Homo sapiens: one gene and its partners. The protein of the gene in region 1 interacts with the protein of each later gene in a pairwise test. Each region holds a gene or a part of one and is shown on either strand. Other genes may lie near its edges. The genes, in order: CNOT11, CNOT1 and GPBP1L1.

What was found.
Region 2: the proteins of CNOT11 (region 1) and CNOT1 interact in binary tests that used the Homo sapiens proteins (3 or more experiments, as listed by UniProt).
Region 3: the proteins of CNOT11 (region 1) and GPBP1L1 interact in binary tests that used the Homo sapiens proteins (3 or more experiments, as listed by UniProt).

Annotation. Positions count from the first base shown.
Region 1 is NC_000002.12:101,262,886-101,266,385, forward strand, and holds part of CNOT11 (CCR4-NOT transcription complex subunit 11), read left to right. Parts: intron 1-1,959; coding exon 1,960-2,162; intron 2,163-3,236; exon of another isoform or gene 3,237-3,500. UniProt on the Homo sapiens protein: Component of the CCR4-NOT complex which is one of the major cellular mRNA deadenylases and is linked to various cellular processes including bulk mRNA degradation, miRNA-mediated repression, translational repression during translational initiation and general transcription regulation.
Region 2 is NC_000016.10:58,521,672-58,525,401, reverse strand, and holds part of CNOT1 (CCR4-NOT transcription complex subunit 1), read left to right. Parts: intron 1-42; coding exon 43-223; intron 224-1,559; exon of another isoform or gene 1,560-1,899; coding exon 1,900-2,032; exon of another isoform or gene 2,033-3,730.
Region 3 is NC_000001.11:45,630,913-45,634,642, reverse strand, and holds part of GPBP1L1 (vasculin-like protein 1), read left to right. Parts: intron 1-406; coding exon 407-547; intron 548-967; coding exon of another isoform or gene 968-995; coding exon 996-1,154; intron 1,155-3,730. UniProt on the Homo sapiens protein: Possible transcription factor.

The DNA of each region.
Region 1 (3,500 bases):
AATGCATGCCAAGTTGTTTGTTGCATGTCTATCCTATGCATACCTAAAGATACAGGCTGGGCGCAGTGGCTCACACCTGCAATCCCAGCATTTTGGGAGGCCGAGGCAGGTGGATAACTTGAGGTCAGGAGTTCTAGAGCAGCCTGGCCAACATGGTGAAACCCCATCTCTACTAAAAATAAAAAATTAGCCGAGTGTAGTGGCATGCATCTGTAGTCCCAGCTACTTGGGAGGCTGAGTCAGGAGAATTGCTGAGGCAGAAGTTGCAGGAGCCGAGATCGAACCACTGCACTCCAGCCTGGGTGACAGAGTGAGATTCTGTCTCAAAAAGGAAAAAAAAAAAATACAGATTCTCATTTTACTGAAATGAGTCTTTTTGTAGCAGCTCATTATCTTTTTGTTTTATACCTGTTAAATCTTCTTATTGCTATCATTTCCTTTTCCATTTTAAAGTTTTTCTTATAAACTCCTAATTTACTTTAATTCAAAGAAAACACTTGTAGAATTTGAAATAATATAGCTGCATTTTTTGGGGATTTCTTTAAGAGATGGAATCTTGCTATGATGCCCAGGCTGGACTCAATCCCTTGAGGCTCAGGGGATCCTCCTACCTCAGACTCCCACATAGTTGGAATTACAGGCATGCACCACTCTACCTGGCATCTGTTTTATAGGCTTCTGTGTGCTTTGAATTATGAAGGCAAGCTTTCTGCTTTGGGATGAGAACATGTTTACCAGATGATAGTGTAGTATCACCATGAGTTTGAAGTTCACACAGTGACTTTTGTACCATTTGGTTTACAGTAGATCTTTGACATACATAGGTTTAATATTTGAAGTTTCTGCTGGTCACAAGTGTGACTGAAATGTCCATGGCATGTAATGGCTTCTTTTAAATATTTGCTCGGGCAGAACTCTAAATTGCATAGGTCACCAGGAAGATATATGAAAAGCAGATCACTCATAATAAGTGGGTCTAGCCAAACACCAGGTGTCCCCACCTCGCAAGAACTCTCTATCACATAAGTAGTATTTCTCATAAATTGTTAAAAACTTTATTTTTGTAAGTGGTTGAAGGGAGATTCAGATGCTAGTCCTGGTGAGGTAAGTGAAGAGGCAGTGGAGATGTTTAAGATAAAGTGATGATTTTTAACTAAAAAATATTTTCTGTAAACTCAACAGTAGACTCTCAAATTTGGCAGGGCTAGGATCCATGACAGGAATAAGCCACTCCTGCCCTATGTGGAAACTATGTGAGATGTGAAATTGGTTCAGCAGAAGTCCTAGCCAGCATTTATTTCAGTGGGTTTGTAACTCAGGGATGAATCTTGTTTTATAAAATAGTTGAGTTGAACCACTTCATTTTCCTTTTGTACTTCTATTGTTTTCTGAAAATGAATATAGTATTTGTGAATTTAGGGATTCGTGACGGTTTCCACATTCGTTTCGAAATATCAAAAGGCAACCATACTTTTCCTCCTGCTGCTTCATCGCCACGTAATTTGTTACTTCAGTTATAAGATGCAAAGATAAAACTAGTACAAATCATAGTGGCAGCTGAACAAATAGTGGTAACTAAGAATAGGATGTGTGAGGGCATAGTATTTCATTTTTTCATCAAAAGACTTCACCCGTTTAGGAGTCGTGCCCTTTTGCTGTTGAGTGGCCATGCTCAAGTGCAGCATGGGCAGATCACGGCCAGGCTTTCCTCACTTCTGCAAAGCGAATAGATTGTTCTCTGGCATCATGCTGGCATAGTGTTCTTTCATTGTCTTGTTTGCATTCTGACTGAAACCCTGACTTCCTGTGTCATTCCTGCTTCTGATTTTGAAGTATGAGAGTTCTAGTCACATCATCCTTATTAAGAGATTTCTTTGCATACTTTATTAAGTGAAATGTGTGAGATGTGTAGAGATGTTAGCTTCCTGATAGGAGCAACTATCACGGCTCTCATTACAGGCCATTTTCGACCAGAGTTTATTCGTCCACCGCCTCCACTCCACATTTGTGAGGATGAACTTGCTTGGCTAAACCCCACGGAGCCTGACCACGCGATCCAGTGGGATAAATCGATGTGTGTTAAGAATAGCACTGGTGTGGAGATCAAACGAATAATGGCCAAAGCCTTCAAAAGCCCCTTATCCTCTCCCCAACAAACACAGGTGTGTATTGATTGTAAGCATTTTCTTATCTTTTTTTTTAAATTTATTTTTAATTAAAAAAATTTGTTTTTGAGACAGAGTCTCACTCGGCTGCCCAGGGTGGAGTGCAGTGGCACGATCTCGGCTCACTGCAGCCTCTGCCTCCCGGGTTCAAGTGATACTCGTGCCTCAGCGCCCCCAGCAGCTGAGACTACAGGCATGCACCACCATGCCCGGCTAATTTTTGTATTTTTATGAGATGGGGTTTTGCCATTGTTGGCCAGGCTGGTCTGGTGGCTTCAAGTGATCTGCCAACCTTGGCCTTCCAAAGTGCTGGGATTACAGGTGTGAGCCACTGTACCCAGCCATTGTGAGCATTTTCTTATCTTTAATCCAACAAGAGTTTATTTTTTTTTTGGAAAGTGGTAAGCAATAAACTAATCCTGTCACTGTGAGTGAGCAGTAGGAAGTTGCAAAGGTTTTTGGGTCTCTGAAGCTTTGTTCTACTCTTTGGTAATTTTGCTGTGGTGGGGCAAGAAGTCTGATGGCAAAAATGTTCTAACTTTTCTTTGTGATGTTTGTCCCTGGGAGAGGTGGGGTAGTGGGGGTGTCACTGCTGTGTACAGTGGGACACTACACAATGGTTACGTTTGAGCTGATGGTAACGCTTCTGATGGAAAGTGGAGTTACTGACAGGCTGTAGGGAGGAAAACAAGGCTGGGAAGGGGAACCCGCCCCCATCACACAGCTGGATCGTGGTGTATTTGAGATTAAAGTAGCCCCCACTGCCCGAGTGTGAGACTGGATGACTCTCCTCAGGAAAGGCAAGGCCACTCTTCTATTGGTTGGTGAATTTTATCCAGTTTGCACACTTTTGAGTTAGAACTTTTTAGGAGATGACCTCTCCTATCACGTTTGCCACCAAAAATATCATTTTCAAAACGAAATAATAGCAACGTTTGTAGTTCGCTTTGCTCGCAAGACCATCCTGAAAACACAGTCCACTGTGGAACATATTAAGTAGACGGGGGAAAAAAAGCATAGGACATTTAAAGAGGAAGTGCTTACTTCATAGAAAAAGTCCTTTGAGGATACCTGTTTGAATTACAAAGTGTGGGTGTGACTTGAACTGTAAAGTTCTGCAGACTGATGACTCGCAGCAGGTCAGCTGTCCGGATTCCCGCTCCGGCTTCCCACTCCGCCCCCTTCTCAGGTATTTCTGGTCTCCACCTGGGTGGGGTGGGGCAGGACTGTTTCTTGGGAGAACTAGTTGGTCATTAAGATTATTTTTAGTTACAACAGATGACAGAAAAAAAAAACCTGCAAAGGACTTGACATTGTTACAACCAGACAGTATTT
Region 2 (3,730 bases), on another chromosome or scaffold:
TGCAGGAGTAAGCATAAGGAGTTCTGTTTTGCTCATTTTAAGGTATCCAATGAACCTGGGAATCGCTACAACCTCCAGCTCATCAATGCACTGGTGCTCTATGTCGGGACTCAGGCCATTGCGCACATCCACAACAAGGGCAGCACACCTTCAATGAGCACCATCACTCACTCAGCACACATGGATATCTTCCAGAATTTGGCTGTGGACTTGGACACTGAGGGTGAGTGAAGCCTGCCAGTTTTCAGAGTAGAGTTCTCTGTGCTTTTTGCTACAATCTGATCACAAAAATGTAAAAATGCTTCAAGCCACAATAGTGAAGGAATGTTCTGTCAGTATATTTATTCACAGGTCTAGCTGATTATTTTATCTTTAATTGGACATTATCTGCTCAGTGCAGGAAATACAAAAAAGCATAAAGGAAAGAATTATCCAGAATCGTGCAGTATCAGTTTTGGTGTATGTGACTGAAGTTTTTTAGTGTGAAAATAAACTTAAAGTCCCTTTAAACATAGCCTCTTGTTACATTGTTTTGTTAGGCTGCCTTATATAAGCATTTTTATTGGTGCGTGTTTGGCAGGCATCTTGTTAAATGTTCATGTATAAAGATTAATGAATAGGACTCTCCTGTTCTGCAAAAAGCTCACAGTATAACTCCTGTTGCAGGTTGCAGCTTTTCTGCTTGAGCTACATTTCATTTGGTCCTCTATATTTATCTTATAAAATAGAGACCCCAGTTAGGTGCTAACTAGTTGTACAGTCCTGTCCAGTTTTGCATACATATATTTTAGGGGGACACTACTCTTTAACTTTGCTATTGATTCTTGAGAGATGAATTGATGTTGCATATATGCTGCATGCCTATATGTGGGATGGATTTAAGACAGCTTAAATTCAAGATATAACAAAATTGAATACCATCACGTCCAAGAGCTCGGCAATAAAAGGACGGCAGCCTTTAGAGAAACGTGTCACTGTGACAGACTCACAAACACGAATAATGTCAAGCAGAGGCAAACAACCAAACCCAATTAAGATAATACTTATTCCAGTGTAGTTTAGACTAATCAAAATGTGGGCTGGGTACCCTTAGGGTGTCAAGACCTTTTTAGGAGGGCTGTGAGGTCAAAACTTTTTTTTTTTTTTTTTTTTGCGATAGAGTCTTGCTCTCACACCCAGGCTAGAAGGCAGTGGCGCAATATCGGCTCACCATAACTTCCGCCTCAGGGGTTCAAGCGATTCTCCTGCCTCAGCCTCCCGAGGAGCTGGGATTACAGGCACACGCCACCATGCCCAGCTAATTTTTATGTATTTTTAGTAGAGATGGGGTTTCACCATGTTGGCCACGCTGGTCTTGAACCCCTGACCTCAAGTGATCCACTTGCCTCAGCCTCCCAAAGTGCTGGGATTACAGGCGTGAGCCACCGTGCCCGGCCCAAAACTGTTTTCATCATAAAACAACATTTACATTTTTGGGTCTATTCTGTCATGAGTGTACAGTTGAATTTCTCAGAGGTTACATGAAATATACTGTAACAAGTTGAACACAGAAGCAGAAATGAGAATCCAGCTGTCTTTTATTAAGCAAGACTTAGAGATCTGCAAAATGTAGAAAGACTTAGTGATGAGTGTCACCAGAAAATAGTTCATGTTTCTTACATTAGCACATAGTGGGTCTGTTTTTAAAAATGAATATTTTTAAAATCTAATTTCTAATGTGGAAAATTCTGAAATAAAACGCACAGAAATGAGAACTCTTTGGGGTCCCAAGAACCACTGCTTTAAACCAAAGATTAATTTGAAAGCCTCTGTCAGAAACCCAAACCCTAGCCAGTTAGAACTGTCTTCCCATGTTGGCCTTTCAGACTAAGTCCTAAGTCAAGGTTTCTTAATTTCTAGGTCGCTATCTCTTTTTGAATGCAATTGCAAATCAGCTCCGGTACCCAAATAGCCACACTCACTACTTCAGTTGCACCATGCTGTACCTTTTTGCAGAGGCCAATACGGAAGCCATCCAAGAACAGATCACAAGGTAAGCGAGCAGCTTATTTTTTAAATGCTTCAAAAGGATCTCCTCCCTTTCATCTTTTTTTTTTCCTCTTTATGCTTTCAGTGTTCAGTGAAAATCCGTTTGGTTGGTTTTTTTTTTGTTTTTTTGAGACGGAGTGTTGCTCTGTCACTCAGTCTGCAGTACAGTGGCGCCATCTTGGCTCACTGCAACCTCCGCCTCCCAGGTTCAAGCGATTCTCGTGCCTTAGCCTCTCAAGTAGCTGGGATTACAGGCGCCTGCCACCACGCCCAGCTAATTTTTGTATTTTAGTAGAGACGGGGTTTCACCATGTTGGCCAGGCTGATCTTGAACTCCTGACCTCAAGTGATCCACCCGCCTCAGCCTCCCAAAGTGCTGGGATTACAGGCGTGAGCCACTGCACCCGGCCTTCAGTGAAAATCTTTTACATGTCCAATAATGTGTTAAATGTGGGATACAATTGTGAGCAAAATGGATGGTTCCTGCCCTCTTAATACTCATTCTGATGGACATTTATCACAAGATAGGGAATTATAAATCGCAATCATGGCTTAAATGAAAAGTAGTTTACCACAAGGCACATTTTGATTAAAGGTCAGGAGTTTCTCTGAGGTGGTGGTGATAACCAGTCCTAAATCATGCAGGCCTATGAAGTCTATGTTAAGGAACTTGGACTTTTCCTCATTACCTCTGGGTTGAAAGCAGTAGCAATAACAGGATCATACTTGCATTTTCCTAACAATAGTTAGGAATCTGTTGCCAGATTGCCTAGACTACATATAGCATTAGAGAGATTGTGATACACACACACACACACTTTAAAAATTGGGCCAGACTCTTAAAACTTGCTCATTTGCCTAATTAGTCACCTATGGTGCTAAATATGGTATTCCTTTGATTTGTGTACTAAAATTTAATATCTTATTGGATGCTTAGATGATGATGATCCATTTTGTTTATATAAAGCTGCAGTAAGTCTCCTTGGACTTGTAATCTTTGTTATGCTTCATGTACAGTTGGTACGTGAAAGGATATAAAGTTAAGCCAATGCTTACTGGCATTCGGAAAAATTTTACCAATTTACATGTGAACTAGCAATGTTAGCTTTTTTTTTTTTTTTTTTTTTTTTTTTTTTGAGACAGTCTCGCTTTGTCGCCTCCTGAGTAGCTGGGATTACAGGCACCTGCCACCACGTCCGGCTAATTTTTTGTATTTTTAGTAGAGACGGGGTTTCACCATCTTGGCCAGGCTGGTCTTGAACTCCCGACCTCGTGATCCACCCGTCTTGGCCTCCCAGAGTGCTGGGATTACAGGCGTGAGTCACTGTGCCCAGCCTGCAGTGTTAGAATACTTAATTCTTATTTTCTGTTTCCTTTTTATTGAGAGTGAGCTTATTTATTTATTTAATTTATCTGTTTATTTGAGACAGGGTCTCACTCTGTCTCCCAGGCTGGAGTGCAGTGGCACCATCTCGGCTCACCACAACCTCCACCTACTGGGTTCAAGCGATTCTCCTGCCTCAGCGTCCGACTGCTGGGATTACAGGCATGTGGCCACCATGTCTGACTAATTTTTATATTTGTAGCAGAGATGGGGTTTCACCATGTTGGCCAGGCTGGTCTCGAACTCCTGACCTCAGGTGATCCACCTGCCTCGGCCTCCCAAAGTGCTGGATTACAGGCATGAGCCACTGTGCCCGGC
Region 3 (3,730 bases), on another chromosome or scaffold:
AAACACTACTAAAAAAAGTTTTGGGATTCAATAAATTAGGAAAATGCTGCATAACTGCCTCTCAAATTCTTATGTGCAGTTAAGTGCTTTGAGAAATTGCACAGTGAAGAACCTTGTTGAACTTTTTTCACCCCGGCACCTCCCAAACTCATTGAACTATTGAACTAGAGCCCTGTTTTTGGGAAGTCACTATTAATGTCCAATGGCTCTTCTGTATCCCATCTACCATTTTCCTTGAAGTGCCTAACCTCCGAAAGAGGTTGCATACTTCCCAAACATGTTAAGACAGGTAAGCCCTGGAAACTTATGTTCTCATGTAACATTTCACTCTTTGCTTTATGATTTTATAAGCTGAGCTTCTGTTTGTGTGCTTGTTCTGACTGATTTGTTCTTTCACCCTGTGTAGCCTAATGCATGGAAAGCTAACAGGATGGAGCACAAGTCAGGATCCCTTTCCTCTAGCCGGGAGTCTGCTTTTACCAGTCCAATCTCTGTTACCAAACCAGTGGTACTGGCTAGTGGTGCAGCTCTGAGTTCTCCCAAAGAGGTGAGTGAGGATGAAGCAGGACAGTCTTTTCTGAAATTGCCATTTCCCGTTCACTTAGATAACAAGTGTAATATGTATAGCTGTGACACTTGTTTTGTAGCTATATTTAGCTGAGAATAGTTTCTTTATTGATGTTTTCTGTTAGCATCCAAAAGTGGGCAGTGGCTAAATGGGATAGATGCTCTGTGGTGGACCAAGGTCATCCTATGTTAGACTGGCATTCTGCTGATGTCTGTAGAAAGATCAAAGAGGTGCCATGTAAGCCAGCTGCTCTTAACTATATAAACCCTGCAAAACTGAAGTTTGAACTGCTTAAATAAAAGGATTGTTTGGTTTAAGACAGAGTGATAAATAGGCTACCAGATTCTTGAAGTCAGCACTTAGTAGAAGAGAACCCCAGTTCTTGCTCTTTGCTGTCAGGAGCAACCTGTTTGTGGTATTTGCCCAGAGTCCCTCCAGCACCACCCCTCCAATTGAGATCAGCTCCTCTCGTCTGACCAAGTTGACCCGCCGAACCACCGACAGGAAGAGTGAGTTCCTGAAAACTCTGAAGGATGACCGGAATGGAGACTTCTCAGAGAATAGAGACTGTGACAAGCTGGAAGATGTAAGAGCATCCGCCTTTTCTGGGGGTAGCCTAGGAATTTTCCTTTGATACATACGTGATTTCTTCTTCTTAAAGGATAAAGATGTGGCAAGATTTTTAAATGTACAGAGATACTGTCTGTAGGTGTAACTGCCTTCTAGACCACATAGTAAAGTGAGTTTAATCCTTTTTTCAGCAAAAATGTTAAATTCGGGTTTATTTTAGTAATCACTCACCTATTGAAGTACATCTTGGTTGCTTCCAAGTGTTGGCAACTATGAATAAAACTGCAGTAAACATCCATGTGCAGGTTTTTGTGCTGGCATAAGTTCAACTCCTTTGGGTAAATACCAAGGAGCGCAATTGCTGGATCATATGGTAAGAGCATGTTTAGCTTGTCAGGAAACCACCAAACTGTCTTCCAAAGTGGTTGTGCCATTTTGCATTCCCACCAGCAATAAATGAGAATTTCTGTTGCTACACCTCCTCACCAGTATTCGATATTATCAGTGTTCTGGATTTTGGCCCTCCTGATAGGTGTGTAGTTTTAATTTGCACTTCCATGATGACATATCATGTGGAGCATCCATCTATGTATCTTCTTTGTTGATGTGTTTGTTCAGGTCCCTTACCCATTTTTTAATGAGGTTGTCTGTTTTCTTATTGCTAAGTTTTAAGAGTTCTTAGAGTTCTTTGTATATCTTAGTTAATAGTCCTTTATTAGATGTGTCTTTGACTACAGTTTCTCCAAGTCTGTGATTTGACTCTTCATTCTTTCTTATTTATTTATTTTGAGACAGAGTCTGGCTCTTATCACCCAGACTGGAGTGCAGTGGCACGATCTGGGCTCATTGCAACCTCCGCTTCCCGGGTTCAAGCGATTCTCCTGCCTCAGCTTCCTGAGTAGCTGGGATTACAGGCACCCGCCACCACGCCCAGCTAATTTTTGTATTCTTAGTAGAGATGGAGTTTCGTCATGTTGGCCAGGCTGGTCTTGAACTCCTGGCCTCAAGTGTTCTGCCTGTCTCAGCCTCCCAAAGTGCTAGGATTAAAGGCATAAGCCACCACATGTGGCCATATTTATTTATTTGTATTACTTTATTTTTTGAGATGGAGTTTCACTCTGTTGCCCAGGCTGGAGTGCAATGGAGCAATCTCAGCTTACTGCAACCACCGCCTTCCAGGTTCAAGCAGTTCTCCTGCCTCAGCCTCCCAAGTAGCTGGGATTACAGGCATGTGCCACCACATGACACACGTTATTTAGCTTCTTAGCTCTGGCCAGAGGACCAGGAAACTACAGTGCAGAACAAGAGGCAGAGGAAGGCCAACCTGCTTCCTTGAAGACCAAGAGCTCAGACCATAACTCTGGAACACAGCCTTGTGGTTCTGATAAGGAATTAGACCTGTGAGGATGAAAGAGTATACTATTTTCTGGAATTTTTTTTGTATGTAGTAGAGACAAGGTTTCACCATGTTGGTCAGGCTGGTCTCGGATTCCAGACCTCAGGTAATCCACCCACCTCAGCCTCCCAAAATGCTGGGATTACAGGCATGAGCTGCCATGCCCAGCCGGCCATATTTGTTTTTGAGACAGTGTCTCACTCTGTCGCCCAGGCTGAATGCAGTGGCATTAATGATCACAGTTCACTGCAGCCTCGACCTCCCCTCCTCAAGCTATGCCTCAGCCTCAGCCTCCCGAGTAGCTGGGACTATAGGCTTGTGCCACCATGCCTGGCTAATATTTTGTTTGGTACAGAGATAGCTTCTTGCTATGTTGCTCAGGCTGGTGTTAAACTCCTAGACTCAAGCAGTCCTCCCACCTTTGGCCTCCGAAAGTGCTAGGATTACAGGTGTGAGCAACTACACTGTCTTTTAATTCTCTTGACAGAGTGTTTTGCAAAGCAGAAATTTTTTTTATTTTAATGAAATCCAGCCTAATTAATTGTAGGCCAGTCACGGTGGCTCAAACCTATAATCCCAACACTTTGGTTGGCTGAGGTGGGCGGATCACCTGAGGTCAGGAGTTTGAGACCAGCCTGGCCAACCTGGCGAAACCCCGTTCCTACTAAAAACAGAAAAATTAGCCGGGCATGGTAGCATGCACCCATAGTCACAGCTACATGGGAGGCTGAGGCATGAGAATCACTTGAACATGGGAGGCGGGGGTTGCAGTGAGCCGAGATCGCGCCACTGCACTCCAGCCTGAGCAACAGAGTGAGACTTGATCTCCAAAAATAAGTAAGTAAATAAACAAATAAATAAATAAATAAATGTCATACCCAAGGTAATCTAAGTTTTCTTTTATGTTATCCTTATAGGAGTTTTATAGTTTTGTGTTTTACATTTAGGTCTGTGACCCATTTTGACTTTATTTTTGTGACGGCTGTAAGGTCTTTGTTTAGATTGATTTTTTTTTTTTTAGTGTGGCTGTCCAATTGTTCCCTCACCATTTGTTGAAAAGACTATCTTTTCTCCATTGTATTTCCTTTGTCAAAGATCAGTTGTCTATTTGTGGGCTCTCTGTTCTGTCCCATTGGACTATTTGTGTCATCTTCTGCCAGTACCACACTTTTTCCCCCCACACCTCTTATGAGCAC